Homo sapiens: one gene and its partner. The protein of the gene in region 1 purifies or fractionates together with the protein of each later gene. This does not show direct contact. Each region holds a gene or a part of one and is shown on either strand. Other genes may lie near its edges.

Region 1 (9,096 bases):
GGACCACATCCACTGTCCCTTCAACCTAGACTGTGTCTCTGACAAGAATCCTGCTACAAATCACACTCCAATGTCCAGGAAGAGATCCTCATGTAGTTCTCTAAGTGCCACTTCTTTCATAGCTCCTGCTCTGAGACTCGGTGAGCAGGTTGGTGTTAAGTTCTGCTGTACTCTATCATGTCAGAGATTTTGATCACACCTTCTCTCAGCTTTTATTCTCCGTATTAGACTCCTTATCTTTGGAATCTGACTTTGAATGATAAAATAGTTGAGTCTGGGATTTATTTAGGAATTGTACCTGAAGCATGTTACACTGATTTAGGAGGAGTTTCGTGAGCTTGGATCAGGAAACTACATCCTGTGGAAGAAAGAAGAAAACAATAAAGCCTTTGTAATTCAAGAGAAGAAGGAGATAGCAGGAATGCTTTGAATGACGATCTCCTCTCTGTGTCTTTTCCAGACTCCTTAATCCTGCAGGCACCATATTCTGTGTTTGAAGGTGACACATTGGTTCTGAGATGCCACAGAAGAAGGAAAGAGAAATTGACTGCTGTGAAATATACTTGGAATGGAAACATTCTTTCCATTTCTAATAAAAGCTGGGATCTTCTTATCCCACAAGCAAGTTCAAATAACAATGGCAATTATCGATGCATTGGATATGGAGACGAGAATGATGTATTTAGATCAAATTTCAAAATAATTAAAATTCAAGGTGAATCTTTCAGTTCATATAGATTTGCTTAGTAATGACAGGGATAGGAAACTGAGCATGTAAGGAAAGAATTTACGGGTTACTATTGAAACTCTGGATAGATGAGAGGCACAAATCCTCTAAGAGGCAGAGAAAGTGGGGTGATTGGACCTGAATAATCCTGTAGAAGAAAACTGTGATAGAGGGCTTGATAAGTTTGTCTTGCTGTGTGTCTGAAGTTTCCTGGGACTGAGCATCCAAACCTGTCTCTCACAGAGTCCTAAATACTCTCGTGCTCAGAACTTGACTTACCTCTTCTCTCTAGAACTATTTCCACATCCAGAGCTGAAAGCTACAGACTCTCAGCCTACAGAGGGGAATTCTGTAAACCTGAGCTGTGAAACACAGCTTCCTCCAGAGCGGTCAGACACCCCACTTCACTTCAACTTCTTCAGAGATGGCGAGGTCATCCTGTCAGACTGGAGCACGTACCCGGAACTCCAGCTCCCAACCGTCTGGAGAGAAAACTCAGGATCCTATTGGTGTGGTGCTGAAACAGTGAGGGGTAACATCCACAAGCACAGTCCCTCGCTACAGATCCATGTGCAGCGTGAGTGTTGGAGAGCCAGGCATCTTCCCTGCCTCTCTCTGCCCCTTGGGCTCTGTAGGCATGGGGACTATGTAGCAGAGATGGGTTTTATCATCCTGACAGAGGCACCAGGCTTAGGCCAAGAAGTGCAGTACTATAATAAAAGAAATACATGACTTCTTTTCTACCTCCATTTTCCTAAAAACTCAGTCTTCCTTTGAAATTCTATCACTTCAGAATCACAGCTGACTCATGGAGTTAGGTTTGAGAGCTATGGAAAACAAAACAAAACAAGAAAATGAGGTGCCCTGCTAGGGATTTGGCAGATTCTAGAATGGCTAGATCTTAAGGATAACTATTTAGAAGACAAGCATCCACCTTTTCCTGGTCAGTAGCAATGAACAGTGTGAGTGCCTATGATGTGTACAGCAGAAAAGAAGGAGAGATAGATAGATAGATAGGCCCAATAAATATCACTTAGGTACAAAATTATGACTTTTGAAAACAGATGTGGTCCAGCCTAGTGCCATGATGGCTGCTATTGCTATTACCTGCCCCTCAAAACAACTCAGACCTCCAGCCAGGATGTCAGACAAAACCCAAATGCTTCTTCAGGGTTAGTCCTTTTTTCTTTCCTGGGGCCTCGTATATCAGGATGGAAAGCTTATCACATTTAGTGATATTCTCAGCGCTAAATCTGTGGTCTATTGGCCACAATGCTAGTGCCTGCTGAAGAGTATATCTTGAAGTCACATAAAAAGTAACCCTGCCCAACACCCCAGCTACCTAGCCCTGCCCTCCTTCACACCCGACCCCCACCTGTGGTCTCATTTTCACATAGGGATCCCTGTGTCTGGGGTGCTCCTGGAGACCCAGCCCTCAGGGGGCCAGGCTGTTGAAGGGGAGATGCTGGTCCTTGTCTGCTCCGTGGCTGAAGGCACAGGGGATACCACATTCTCCTGGCACCGAGAGGACATGCAGGAGAGTCTGGGGAGGAAAACTCAGCGTTCCCTGAGAGCAGAGCTGGAGCTCCCTGCCATCAGACAGAGCCATGCAGGGGGATACTACTGTACAGCAGACAACAGCTACGGCCCTGTCCAGAGCATGGTGCTGAATGTCACTGTGAGAGGTGAGTTTTAATCTCTATTGACCTTATTTATTCTCAGCAAACTTCCTCAAATTAAGGGTGGGGATAGCTAACATTACCCTGTGACTCTGCTGTTTCTGTTTCCATTTTGCCATGCTCCACTGTGATAAACAATTTCTTCCATTAGAATAGTAATAACTCACTCAGGTCAGAGTAAGGTCCTGTAGTGAGGTAATGGTGGCTGGGAGCCATTTTGCTTTTTGGAGGTGATTTTGTTTGTCTGTGTTTGGGTCCATTGTGTGTTTATCTCCAAGAGGAGCCTTACTTCATTAGCAGTGTTTCTGGGTGGGGCACAGCTCTGTCACCCTACCGTGTCATCCTACAGTATCAACTACACCTCTCCTTTCAGTAAATCATTCACACACACCACACACATCAGACCTGCAGCCTCAAGTCCACAGAACCAAAAGCACAAGGCATTCCTTTACTTCATTACTATAATAGAATCCTGAGGGATTCTCAGCAGCCAAATTGTATGTGGGTCAGGAAACTCACAAGAAGCAGGGAGAGCAGATACAGAGCCCACTTTTGTCCATTGAGGAGAGAAGCCTTACTTTGGGATATCACAGGTTTAGCTCATATACATCTCTTCCTCCATCGCTGAGAAGCCACACTGGGCCAAGCTATGTTCTCACTCAGCTACCTTGGCACTAAGGAAGTGGTCTTTACTGGGCTTCAATTCCTCCTCAATCTCAGGTTTAGTTGTATTCCTGTCTCTCTGAAAAAGGAAAGAAAGAAAGAAAGAAAGAAAGAAGGAAAGAAAGAAAGAAAGAAAGAAAGAAAGAAAGAAAGAAAGAAAGAAAGAGAGAGAGAAAGAAAGAGAGAAGGAAGGAAGGAAAGGAGGAAAGAGAAAGAAAGAAAGAGGGAAAGGAAGGAAAGGAAGGAAAGAAAGGAAAGAAAGGAAAGGAAAGAAAGGAAAGAGGAAAGAAAGGAAGAATCTAGCTTTTATTAAGTTACTGGAAAGCTAGATTTCCCTGCTTTTCTATACAATAAAACTCCTCAATTCACTCTCCTTACCTCCCTGATTTTTTCTTAAACCCATCACCACCAGGCTTGCCTCACTCCACCAAAATTACTAATGATCTCCATATTTCTAAGGCCAGTGGAAAACTGTTCCCATTTGATTTGACCTACCTCCAGCTTTTGATACAATTGATCCCTCCCTCCTTCTTGAAACATTTTCCTGCTCAATTTCTGGGACATAACCTGTTAGTATTCTATCTATTCAGCAGATACTTTTTTAAAGTTTTCTTTCCAGATCCTTATAATATTTCCAACTTCTAAATTTTGGGGACTGCTCCCCAAAAACAGCTGCACTGTTTATACAAAGTCAGCTCTGACGGTCAAAGCCATAAACCTGAACAGTTTAGTCAGAGGCTCCAGCAAGGGGTTGCTATGCGAATGGCCCAGATGCGGCTCAACTTTCCCTTCAACTCCCTTGAGGCAAGTCTTATGATCAAGCAGGGCCCACCAGGTTAAGAGACTGAGGTGTTTCCCCAGAACTAAGTACCACAGCAATCTGCATCTCAGTCTGGGAACATCACTGGGTGTAATTCCCAGCAGAGAAGGACTGAGACTGAGCTAATGTCATTTCAATGACTTTTTTTTTTTTTTAAGATGGGGTCTCTCTCTGTTGTCCAGAGTGGAGTTCAGTGGCGTGATCTTGGCTCACTGCAGCCTTGACCTTCTGGGTTCAAGCGATCCTCCCACCTCAGCCTCTCAAATAGCTGGGACTACAGGCATGTGCCACCATGGCCAGCTATTTTTTTTTTAATTTATTTTTCATAGAGAAAGGTTCTCACTACGTTGCCCAGTCTGGTCTTGAATTCCAGGGCTCAATGGCATTTCAAGAATCAGATTAGGGGAGAGGAAGAAGGGATTAGCAAAACTGCAAGCTGCCAAGGGCTCCCTCGAAAGACTCCTGAATGCCCTGAAATCCAGAGTAACACTGATGGTAGAGGGTGTTTCTTCTGCAGGAAGGCTCTTATTCTGAAAAGTTTACCTCAGGAAGTTCAAAGATTATAATCTCTGAGGAGATAACAGTGAATCTGTTGGTAAGTATAAATTATTCCTCTTCCTTTTGGGGGTTAAGATCATCAGAATGGATCAGCTTCTCCTGATCCAGGCAGTGAACTGGCCACTTCACATGTATCATTTCATTTTATTCTCATGACAGCCCTGGAAAGCAGGTGTCAACATCTGTTAAGGAAACAGATGATCTCAAAGATTAAACAAACGTCAAGGATCCAGTGATGTTTGCTGGAATAGGGATTCCCTCCTAAATATTTTTTAATCATGGACTTTATGCAAAATCCCCGTGCTTAGAAATAGGAGAATATATAGCAAAGAGAGAAACTCTGCAGTAGCCTCATGCACTGGGCTAAGGTGGGCTGTCTCAGGCAGCTTGAACTGCCATAACCAAACACCAGGGACTGGGGAGCTTAAAAAACAGAAATCTATTTCCTCATAGTTCTGGAGGCTGGAAGTCTGGGATTAGTGCACTAATATAATTTGGATTCTTGTGAGGGCTCTCTTTCTGGCTTACAGAAGGCTACCTGCTTGCTGTGTCCTTACATGGCAGAGAGAGAGAGCAGCACAACCTTTCTGGTGTTTCTTCTTAGAAGGGCACTAATCCTATCTTTGGGGCCCCACCCTCATGATTTCATCTAAATCTGATTACCTCTCAAAGGCCCTGTCTCCAAATACCATCACATTGGGGTTAGAGCTTCAGCGTATGAATCTGGGGGAGAAGGGCACAAATCAATCCATAGCATGGACTGAGGATGTCTGGGGTAGGGCTGTGTGGGAGCAGGCTTAACCTATGGAGGTGTCCTCTAAGCTAATCAGAGAGCAGCCTGAATTTCCTGAGAGTCTAGGGCATGGTGTCAGGACCACAAAATATGAACTAGTATTTCCCTAGACGTAACACTTAAGTGGCAGGCACTGTTCAAAGCACTTTACATGTATTAACTCATTTACAACAGTAAATAGGAAACTGAGGCAAAGGGAGATTAAATAATTTTCCCTGCCCACACAGTGAGTAAGTTGAGGAGCTGGGATTCTAATCCAACAACCTGGATTTAGAATCTGTGCCTTTCTAACTGAGACAAAATTTCAATTACTTTCCCCAAAGTAGCCATTTCTTTTAGGAAATAGGGTTACCAGGAAGGTAGAGTAACTTGCTTTCTGCCCTTTGAGTCTAGAATCCTAGGCCTGGGTGTGGCTGATTCTGATTTTGCACCGGCGGATGCCCCAGCAGGCAATGGGGAAAGATTCAATACAGGATGTAGTGGCCAAGCCTCTCTGTCCTTAGATTTCTGTCCTGCTCTCCACCGTACTCTTTCAGCTGTTGTGGCTGGGAAGCTGGGCTGGCTGTCCACTGAATACTGTTTATTAGTGGAACCACTCATAGGTCAAAGGGCAGGTTTGTTGATATTGTTGAGGAGGGAAGGATAATATCAGAAATGTCACCAGCCACTCCTAGCCAATGGCTCCTCTGTGCCCAAAATCATAGATGAAAATAAACGGAAATCATGATCAGTGTTGCTGTTGTTCTACTACCTGCATGTTCTCTGTCAATTCTGTGGTACCTGTGTCTGAGGTCTGAATTTGGTTTACCTGGGGACCAAGAATACATATGGGAAAGTACCACGCCCCACTCTCCACTCTCTGTCCCTCTGTCATGCTTTTTGCTCTTTAGCGCATCACTACAGGGCACGGTATAAATTTATTTATTTGTTTATGGCTTGTCTCCCCTCCCTGGGTTATAAACTCAAGAGCCGGGACTTTAACGTCTTGTTCACTCTTGGGTCTTCAAGGGTTAGGTCAATGCCCAGCACAGGGCAGCCTCAGTAAATATTTGTTGTATAAATAAGTAAATTGAATGAAACCTCCTTTTCCGTGGATGAAAGGATAGGAGAACGGACCCCATGGAAATATCAAAAGCCCCTAACAATTTATTGATTATGTGTACTTTTCCATCCGTTTTTTTCTCTCCTGCCCTTCAGAGCACACAGGCACAGGCTTCTATGAGGAAGGAGGCTGATGCCATTTCATCGTGGTGTCCCAATGCGGAGCAATCTCAGAGTTACTGTTGGTTCAACTGGTGCCATAATCAGTGGTGCAATTTTCATTCTCTCTCAGGCAGTTTGCTGTTCCTAAGTTAGGTGCTGCCAAGCCATGATCCCACAGTATCTCTCCAGGTGTCTGGGGGCAATTTGCAGGAAGCCAGCTTACCAGAATACAACATTAGGATTTCCCCTAAATTGTTAGTTTCTAAAATGATTCACTGAAGGTAGAGGGAGCTGCTGTTTCCTCTTGCACTCAGGCCCTGGCCCACCCAATGTGAGCTTTTCTGGCCAAAACCTGGCCCAAGATGTCTTTATGAGACCTAGTCCTTTAGATTTTTCTCTCTTCCAGGGCTCGTTACCCAACCAAGCTGAGGAAAAGGCAATCCCAAACCCTGAACCTCTCCACTGAGATTCACACAGGTCCTTTCCCCTTAGAGACCCCAGGCAACAGAGATGGCCTTGTCGCCGCGGGAGCCACTGGAGGGCTGCTCAGTGCTCTTCTCCTGGCTGTGGCCCTGCTGTTTCACTGCTGGCGTCGGAGGAAGTCAGGTTTGTGCTCTTTTCTTTGCCACAGTTCCTGCCCTGTTCCTTCCCCTGAACTCAGCATGCAGACAGCCTTAGTGGCCACCAGGCCACCACTCCCAAGTCTCCACTCCCAAGTCTCCACTCCCAGCGTTCACACACACTCACGTCCGTCCCTTCCTTAAGGGGCAGTTTTGCAAACAGAAGCCATGAATGAGAGCTGCTCATATCTAGTCTGATTGGCTAAGTCTCAGTGAAGGGGAGGAAGAGTGAAATTTTTAATGTAAAGTTCCAAAAACTTTATCTGAACAGTTTACTTAGGCAGTTTCTTTGGTTCATATAGACTGGCCAGTTAGATACTTCAGCCTATCCTAAATCCACCATAAATGGAGATTCAGAATGAACTAAAGGCTCTGCAGAAATGATTGAGAATAAGAGCTGGCTAATTTTATCCTTCTGTCCCCTCAGGGGCTTTTCTGGGTCTGGCTTTTCAGGGGCTTTTCTGAGCAGGCTTGAGCCTGCCATCTGGTGCTCCAGTGGCCCCTCTCTCCTCAGGTCAGCCTCCCCTGCCTCTTGGAGATGGTCTGTCCCAGGCACTGTTTGCTGCGTGCTTCCAAAGACTTCTTGCCTCAGCCCACCTCAGGCTGGCTTTAGATGCCAAGAAACCTGGTGTAGAAGACAGGAGCAGAACCTTTTTCAGCTCTAGAATAATTACCCACATCCTTCAACTCTGTCTCTTAATTCAATTCAACTTTCCAGATTCCTGACAGCACCTTCTGTGTGTCCTGCATTGAACTGGAGGTAGGGAGCTTTGGACCTCTGACCAATTCTCCTTAGTGGGGCTGAGTCAGAGCCCAGTGCTCCTCTGGGCATGGCCACAGATGTTCCTCGAAGTTCACCCACAGCTCACTACTCTCCAAGTGACACTTTTGTTATATGTAATGTTTCCTGAGGGATTTCAACACAGACTTGAGTCTTAATAAATTCTCAGACAATTACATACTTAACTCAGGAGTGTGCAGTCCTGGCCTCAAAAAGTTATATGCTTTGTACAATCTTTTTTTCACCTCATTTTCATGAAAACCCAGGACTGGGCAGGTGTTTGAATTGACTGTCTTGATTACCTCTCTTAGATAGCTCCTGTTACATGAAGTCATTGAGAAAGAGCTCCCTCTGCTGACAAAAATGCGTCTTTGCTTTATTTTGCAGGAGTTGGTTTCTTGGGAGACGAAACCAGGTGAGACCTCAGTTTCTGCCATTCCTTTTTAGTTTCCCGAGTACACAATATGCAAAACTGTGGGGTTATGAAATTAGGTCAAGTTATACCTCTTTGGCCCTGTGGCTAGATACTTCCATTTTCACACTCCATGAATTTGTCAAAAATGAAGCTTCCTAGAACTTTGCTTGTCAGCTAATAGTTTGCAATACATGCAAAATAATAGATTTCTTATTTGATCTTAACCTACTCATCTAAATGGATAATACCAAAGGTTATAAAGTACAGAATATTTCTTGTACTATAATTAAGTTAGACAATGTGTTACTATAATTATGCATACAATGACTAGAGTCTAGATTTTCTACAAATGTTCTAGGTTTTCCAGAGAACTCTATGTTTCTAATAATCTTCTTTTTGCACCATACACGCATATATACTCATTAAACGTTATGTGCTTAACTTCCATTTGGAAAATACTGTCATCTTCCTCCTTCTATGTCAGTGTCTCAGTCTTAGGTAAGGAATAAGAGTGTGGATTATGTCTAATTCCTTCTTGGATTGTACAGACATTACAATGTAAAGACATTTTATGTATGTATGTATGTATGTATGTATGTATGTATGTATGTATGTATGTATTGTCACCCAGGCTGGAGTGCAGTGGCACGATCTTAGCTCATGGCAACCTCCGCCTCCCAGGTTCAAGTGAGTCTTGTGCCTCAGCTTCCAAAGTAGCTGGGATTACAGGCATGAGCCACCACATCTAGCTAATTTTTGTATTTTTAGTAGAGACCAGGTTTCACAATGTTGGCTGGGCTGGTCTCAAACTCCTGGCTTCAAGTGATCTGCCCGCCT
Region 2 (8,077 bases), on another chromosome or scaffold:
TTTAAAAGAGATTAATTTTAAGAGACCCTTAGTATACATCATCCCAATAGCAGGGTAAATCAGGGCCACGATACTTAGATTTGGAATGTGCTTTTTTTCCTCTCGAATAACCCTGCTGCTCTGTTTAGACTTTGGAGCTATTTGAGGGCTAGCCTTTAGCAGTCAAATCAGATGCCTAAGATGAGTGACTAGTAGAGGAGGGCACCTTGAGGGCAGGGTCCCGCTTTAACTCTTTTGTCCCACCCTTCCCCACCCCCTTCACCCTAATCTGCATTGGGTAGACATGAGATGACCAGTAGTGTCTGGCAGGCTGCTTAGTGCCTGCTGATGCACACCAGTATTGGTGGTCCTGGGGATGCTCAGACCCCACTTGGGTGGTGTGGCAGCAGCTTTGAAACCCTGCCTCTGGCCATCTGCTGTTAGTAGGGTTGGAAGGCCAGGGTCTTGGAAGGGAAGGGAAGCTGACAAACTAGAAAAACTGATCACAGCACACAACAGTGTTCCTCCATGGATCACTGAATGAAAACCTCGGTGCCAGGAACTCCTCCAACTGAGTTAGGTTGGATTATTATTTCCACTGCATAGATGAGGAAACTAAGGTTTCGAGAATTTAGGTGACTTGCTCAACAGCTAGAGCCAGGCTTGTAATATAGGCTCACCTACTCCAAATCCTGTGCTCAGAACCACAACAACTTGCCCTGGATTAAAATAGCACCTGGCACTTGGTGTCACTAGGCCGATGGTTCTCAGCCCTGGCTGCACAGCTGAGGCACTAGATTGAGCTAGAATCTTTGGGACAGATTCTAGCTCCTTCTTGAAACTAGAATCCTTCTTGAAGCTCCTTGAGTGATTTTGATGGGCTGCCAGGGTTTCAAACCACTATACCAGGTTAAACCATTTTGACAGTAGAGACCAGCCGGGAAATGATTACCCCCATGTAACTGGCTTTTGCATATACGACCTTTCTGCTTACATTAGGGACAGGACTATTTGTTCATGTGATTCAAAATGTACCAACATCCTGTGCTAGACACTGGGGATACTGAATCAGGCAGAATGACTTCTCACGGAGAGGAAACAGCCCAGGCCAGCCTGGGACCCTGGGAATATGATCCGTTGAGTGCTTCCTACTACTTCTGGCATGTCCCAGCCCTCCTGAGCAAGCAGGGTTGCTGTCTACTCTGTCCTATAATTCCCTCTGAATCTTGGGCTCCTTTGACTGGTGCTGATATTTTTTTCCTCCAGGAGACTTAAGGGACAGGGAAAAAAGTAGAAGAATGAAAGTAGGGCATGCAGTGTTAGAGGAGAGAAGATGCAGGAATGGGGCTCGTTAATATCTGAGTAATGAGTTTGCATTGCTGGCAGGGTGAGAGTGTGTGTGTTTAGGAGGCTGGGTTCAGAACGGGTGGTGCAGTCTGCATAAGTCTAGACAAGGTCACAGAAGTTCTTAAAAGTGAAATCTGACCAGCCTCTCCCATTGCCAGAACAAAAGCACCAAATTCCATTTTTTTTTTTTTTTTTTTTTTTGAGAGAATCTCGCTCTGTTGCCCAGGCTGGAGTACAGTGGTGCGATCTTGGCTGACTGCCACATCTGCCTTCTGGGTTCAAGCGATTCTCTTGCCTCAGCCTCCCGAGTAGCTGGGATTACAGACTCGCGCCACCACAGCCAGCTAACTTTTGTATTTTTTAGTAGAGACGGGGTTTTGCCATGTTGCCCAGGCTAGTCTCACACTCCTGGCCTCAAATGATCTGCCCTCCTCGGCCTCCCAAAGTGCTGGGATTCCAGGCGTGAACCACCACACCCGGCCCCTAATTCCATTCTTGATTGCTCCATCACACTGCTTGCTCTCAGGTTTCTGCTGAATAATGCTCCTTGGTCCTCTCAACTTCCAATTCTTTGATGTATTTTGACTCCTCCCCCATCCAGCCACCCCATCCCCCCATCATGTCAAGACTGGGTTGAGGGGGGGTATCTTGGCAAGTGAAGAGGCAGAATCTAGGGTGACTAACATGACTGAATTGCAAATAGCTGTTGATGAAAAAGAGGGCACAGCACTGCAATACATCCAGATTCCCAGGTATCTCATCTGGACTCCGGTGGCTGATGGGATTCTTGATTATGGAGTGCTCCCCGCCCCAACCCTGAGGCTATCTGTGGAAAGGCAATGGGTTGAGTTTGAGTTTTCTCCATCATACCGCAGGGAGGGAGGAAGTGACTGTTGTGATTATAGCAGACGGCAGTTAGAGAAGTGACTGCTGCTTACTCCCCACAGGATGGTGAGCAGGGCTTCTCAGAGGAGGTGGGAAATTCTCCCGCGGTGGGTAGAGTGAGGAATGTTTTATGGGCCCAGAAAATCAAGAGCAGCTTCACACATACTCTCATGTCTCTTATCTTTGAGCCACTCAGTGGCTCTTGACCCAGTCAAGGGCTGCCGATGAGAATTACCTGGAGAGATTGAAAACGTAACAGATTCAGAGATCCAGATTTAGTTGGTCTCCACTGGAATGTTTTTTTAAAGTTCTCCAGATGGTTCTAATGTGCAGCTGGAGCTGAGGAACTTACTGAAGCAAATGCTTCTTCCTCCTAATTGTAGGCATAGTTGCGCTAGACCTTTGGAGGGCCTGAGACCTTCTGTTCTTCATCATAATTTTAAGTGTTCACCTACCATCTTCTGATACCACCACTACCACTCCACCCCTGTCTTTACTCCTAGCAAGACAACCTTAGCCTGTAGCTGTATTCTTATTTTACAACTGGGAAAGCAGGCCTGGAGAAGTTAAGGGACTTTCACAGTGTACCAGGTCATACCTACTGCAGAAACCAGGGTTTCTTATTCCCATTCCAGAACCTTGTCTGTAGATCTCATGCATGACTTCCAGGGTCGTGATTTTTTTGTCTGAAATATTCTAGAGAAGTGACTTCTACCCACCCTAGTTGTCATCCTCCCTATCTTCTTGGACTCTCTCTGTGATAGAAGGGAGTAATTTAGAACCTGGAATCAGGGTCGGGTGTGGTGGCTCATGCCTGTAATCCCAGCACTTTGGGGGGCCAAGGCAGGTGGATCACGAGGTCAGGAGATCGAGACCATCCTGGCTAACACAGCGAAACCCCGTCTCTACTAAAGATACAAAAAATTAGCCGGGTGCAGTGGCGGGTGCCTGTAGTCCCAGCTACTTGGGAGACTGAGGCAGGAGAATGGCATGAATCTGGGAGGTGGAGTTTGCAGTGAGCCAAGATCGCGCTACTGCACTCCAGCCTGGGCAAAAGAGCGAGACTCCATCTCAAAAAAAAAAAAAAAGAACCTGGAATCAGAAGACCTGGATTTGAATCCTGCTTCTGCCGAGGGTGTTCTTGGACCCCATCCAAGCCTTAGTTATAATAATCCCTTGTGGAGTGGGTGTGGGAATGAAACAGAACGTTCTTTGGAAACTTTAAGATGCTTGGTAAATGCTACTTCCTTGGAGCAATTATCTCATCAGCATCTGTCGGGACCCAGGTTGTACTCTCCAAGGACCGATAGGTCAGGGGGAGACGGATCAGACTAGATCAGACTTGTACATGGGAAAGAGTGAAGCCGGCTCCCTCCTTTCTCTCTGCAGGACGGGTTTGGGCCTTGCTTGTGGCCTTCAGCAGTCTCTTCTCATTTATGCCCGAGACCATGGGTGCACAATCCTTTTTTTGGCACTGGCTAGAGTGAAGAATAAGGGCTAATAGATTTCCCCACACCCTTGCCTCCACCTTGCTGCCCAGCCAGAAATCTTCCCAGTAGAGATCACCATCCGCCCCCGACCCCCAAGCTGAATACTTAAGGGGTGGGTCCTTCCCATCAAGCTGATTTCTCAACGAGAGGGACAATCCCAGCTTCCCCAACATTGCAGAGCCCAAACATGTGGAAGAGTTGGAAGCTCCGCACAGATGTCAGAGTAAGGGAGGGGGCAGGCGGTTCTCCTTGTGCCTCTTCCCAGCCCGGTAGCAGGGGCCCATGCTTCCTCCCTGGTCTGTCCTCGCAGGAGGTGTCCAGGCGGAGGCAGTTCCTGCGGGAGCATGCGGCCCCCTTCTCCGCCTTCCTCACAGACAGCTTCGGCCGGCAGCACAGCTACCTGCGGATCTCCCTCACAGAGAAGTGCAACCTCAGATGTGAGTCACCTTCCTGGGCCCTCTCTGGGCTGGTGTCCATCTGCTGAAGCAGCCCTTGAAATTTCCCTGTGCCTGGAAATCCTCCTGTGTCCTCCAGTTCTGCTTTCTAACTTCTTCACCTGCTACCCCTTGCTTACCAGGCCAGGTGGGCTTCAGGGGCAAGATAGGGGTCAAGGCTGAGTTGTATGATTATAGAAGCTGTGTCCTACTTGGAATTAGATTTGAAAACATAAATGCAGTTGGATTTAGAATTAAGATTGGATCCTGGACCTCTCATTCTTCAGGGGTCCTTCCTCCTGTTTCCCTGTAGTTCCCGAAGTCCAGGACATGGCCAGGGGTGGGGTGGTGGACATTATAAACATTTGAAGTAGACAGCCATGCCCATGCCAGCACTGCTGACTCTGGAGGTGCCCCAGTCCCGTGACAAATCAGCTGGGGCTAGGCTAATAACAAAGAGGCCTCATTTCATAATCCTCCCAAAGAGTGCTCTGGATCTGTAGCCACTGCTGGAGGGACTTCCAAAGTTGATCTTCCTTCCCCTCTGTTCCTTCCTTCTGCCTCTCCCCACTTTCCCCTCCCCTTCCCCCCTTCCCCCCCTTCTTTTCCTCCCCACTTTCTTTCACTATACCTCACGATAAGAAATAAAGTTACTTCATGGCCCAATAAATGCATGCATGTATGTTTAGTAACTTTTTAACCAAACAAGATGTACTATATGCTTTACATTCTGGTAGTCTTACTTATTCTCTTCAGTCTCAAAGGACTGGTTCTGGACCCAACTGAGTAATTTGCCTTCATGACTCTCTAACAGATCTTGACCCAAACCTTAATGAAACTGCACCACAGGAAGTGATGGTGGAGGATGGTGGCCCTTCCACAGCCTGCCGCTGCTCACCTCATTTACCCCATTCTGATACCTCACCATGAACAAGTAGTATCTCAGTTTTCCAACATATAAAATGGGTCTGATGATAACCTGAAATAGATAGAGTGGATTTGAGAATGCTTGTAGCTACAGAGGACGGCAGCTTTTGCCAGGCCAGAGAGTACCTCTCTCTCACCCCATGACACACAGAGAGAAAGCTACCTGTTTGCCATAGCCAGTGAAATGCAGGAGGATGGGTGACAATGCCAGGAGGAACGCCCCTGCCCAGGTGCCCTCAGCCCAGGAAGTCAGGCCAGGCTCTGCCCTCAGCCTACTTCATCTCTAACCCATGCCCTTGGCCTCCCACTGAGGGATGTTATGGCCAGATTGTGTGTGTTGGGCATAGGGAAAGGTGTTAACGTTTCAGAAATGAGAAAGGTGAGGCCTGGGGAGATGCTGGCCTGGGGTTTTTCCACCTCAGGTTTAGTGAGGTCTCCGCTCACATCCAGATGGGTTTGAGAAGCCTTTGGCCTGATGGAGAGTTGGGGAGTGGAGGCATCACGGGGCTGTGGCCGTGCCTCTTTCCTCCCTCCACATTCCCATTCATCCTTCCCTCAGGTCAGTACTGCATGCCCGAGGAGGGGGTCCCGCTGACCCCCAAAGCCAACCTGCTGACCACAGAGGAGATCCTGACCCTCGCCCGGCTCTTTGTGAAGGAAGGCATCGACAAGATCCGGCTCACAGGTGGAGAGCCGCTTATCCGGCCGGACGTGGTGGACATTGTGGGTGAGTTGGACGAAAGTCATCGCCACTTCTCCCAGCGCTGCCTCATCCGGCTGGACACTGATGCCGATGTTAACAGTGGCAGCTGACATTCATTTAGCACATGACACTCTCTTGGTCCTACAACACCTGCTGAGACAGGTGCTATTATTATTTCCATTTTTGATGAGAAAATGAGGCTTAGGTTGGATAACTTGCCCAAGGTCAGGAAGCTCGCAAATGCCAGACCTCAGTAGCTTGCTGTCACATTGAGACCAAGGTCCTCCAGGAGGCCCACGTGACCTGGCTCTTGCTGACCTCCAAAACCCTTGCAGGCTTCTCCACCTTTCCCCTCCTTCCCATTCACATGACCGGGCCTTGACATGTGCTGTTCCCTTTGCTAGGAGCTCAGGGCACTCTCCTCGACCTCATTCAGGTCTCTGTTCACATGTCATCTTCTCAGCAAGGCCTTCCTCAACCATCCTGTCTAAAGTGCGTCCTCATGTACTCACACCAGCCACTCTTTCCCAGAAATTGGCAAGTTATAGCAGCCAAATCTGGGCCGACATGTGTTTTTGTCTAACGTGCAAACTGAGTGTTGTTTGTTTGTTTGTTTGTTTTTGAGATAGAGTCTCGCTCTGTCACCTAGGCTAGAGTGCAGTGGCAGGATCTCGGCTCACTGCAACCTCCACCTCCCAGGTTCAAGTGACTCTCCTTCCTCAGCCTCCAGAGTAGCTGGGCTTACAGGCACACACCGCTATGCCTGGCTAATTTTTTGTGTTTTTAGCAGAGACGGGGTTTCACCATGTTGGCTAAGCTGGTCTCGAAACCCTGACCTCAAGTGATCCACACACCTCGGCCTCCCAAAGTGCTGAGATTACAGGCGTGAGCCACTGCATCCTGCCATGGTTTTTATGCTCCTAAATAATGGGGAAAAAAATAAAATAATAACATTTTCTACCACACGAAAATTATAAAATCCTATATGTTCAGTGTCTATTAATGGAGTTTTATTGGAATATAGCCATGCCCATTCATTTACATATTGCCCATGGCTGCTTTGGCAGAGTTGCATGGTGTTGACAAAGACTGTGTTGCAAAGCTGGCCAGCCAAGTAGAAAATATTTACTATCTGGACTTCCACAGAAAAAGTGTGGCAACCCCTGCCCTACTCACTTACCCTACTTTGTTTTGCTTCATAGCATTTATCTCATCCTGGCACTGTGTGTTTGGGTTGTGTGTTTGGTTTCTTTAATTGTCTGTCTCCTGCATTCGCTGGCGTGAAAGCTCTCAGGTTGCTGGAGCAGGTTTTGTTTTTGGCATCCAGTACCGTGCCTGACACGTGGTTGATGCTCCCTGAAATTCGCTGAATGAATGGAGACTGGGTCAGAGTAGTCTCTGCAGTACGGCATATTCCTATCTGAGTCTCCACTGTGCCTCTTACAAGAAGCGTACCTTGGGCAACTTTTAAAATCTGTTCTAAGCCTTGAGGCAGTGATAGTACCTACCTTATAAGGTTGACCTGAGGAGGGAATGAGAATGAAATGCCCAGCCTATGGCAAGTGCTCTGTAAAGGTAGCTCTAAAGGGCCTCTTGCCATGAGCTTCTAAACCCCAAGATCAGGAAAGAGACCTTTGCTCATGTAATTATAGGTGATGAAATCGGGGCTATGAGGTTCCATGTTCTTGATTGCTGCCCCGTCCAGCTGCTTTGGACAGGACCCCCCGCCCCTCAGCTCTCTAGCTCAGTAATTGTTCGCTGGAGTGCCCTCTTGCATGCCTCCTACTGTGCTGAGCACACGAAGATGAATGAGCACCAGCCCTGCTGTTGAGGACCTGTGGCCCACTGGAGGAAGCAGCTGCTGTATAAGGGGAGCCTAGGTGCTGTGAGAGTCCCAAGGAGGGGCCCAGGTCCCCCTGACAGCCCTCTTCTCCCTCCTGCCCCATGGCCAGCTCCCTTCAGCTCCTACTGGTCACTTGGCCTGGGAACCTCTGTCATCCTGTGCTGGCTGAGCTGGCCCAGGCAAGCTGACCCCATGTTCCAGGCAGCTCCTCAGGGCTAAAAGGCAGGCTGGCTGCCAGGAAAGGGCTGAACCTGCTGAACCAGCTGCTTGCCAGGCCCAGCCCCCTCATCCAGGCCACTTCCTCTCCCTGGCACCCGCGGGCATGGGCCGCCTTGTGCCAGGACCTGTGAGAGAGCAGAGGGGATGAGGATCACTCACTGGTCAGGGAGGTACAGGATGGCTGAGCACTGGTATGAGGACTCGGGGCTCTCCCGGGAAACCCCAGCATGCAGAGAGGGAAGAATGGGAG

The links. The genes of interacting proteins can lie anywhere in the genome.
Region 2: the proteins of FCRL4 (region 1) and MOCS1 purify together in Homo sapiens (affinity purification with mass spectrometry; 2 studies listed by BioGRID and IntAct, with this or other methods). This does not show direct contact.

The regions. Positions count from the first base shown.
Region 1 is NC_000001.11:157,579,484-157,588,579, reverse strand, and holds part of FCRL4 (Fc receptor-like protein 4 precursor), read left to right. Parts: intron 1-460; coding exon 461-715; intron 716-1,019; coding exon 1,020-1,304; intron 1,305-2,124; coding exon 2,125-2,412; intron 2,413-6,935; coding exon 6,936-7,049; intron 7,050-8,231; coding exon 8,232-8,259; intron 8,260-9,096. UniProt on the Homo sapiens protein: May function as an inhibitor of the B-cell receptor signaling. May function in the B-cell-mediated immune response.
Region 2 is NC_000006.12:39,923,390-39,931,466, reverse strand, and holds part of MOCS1 (molybdenum cofactor biosynthesis protein 1), read left to right. Parts: intron 1-3,750; exon of another isoform or gene 3,751-3,888; coding exon of another isoform or gene 3,889-4,011; coding exon 4,012-4,138; intron 4,139-5,621; coding exon 5,622-5,789; intron 5,790-8,077. UniProt on the Homo sapiens protein: Isoform MOCS1A and isoform MOCS1B probably form a complex that catalyzes the conversion of 5'-GTP to cyclic pyranopterin monophosphate (cPMP).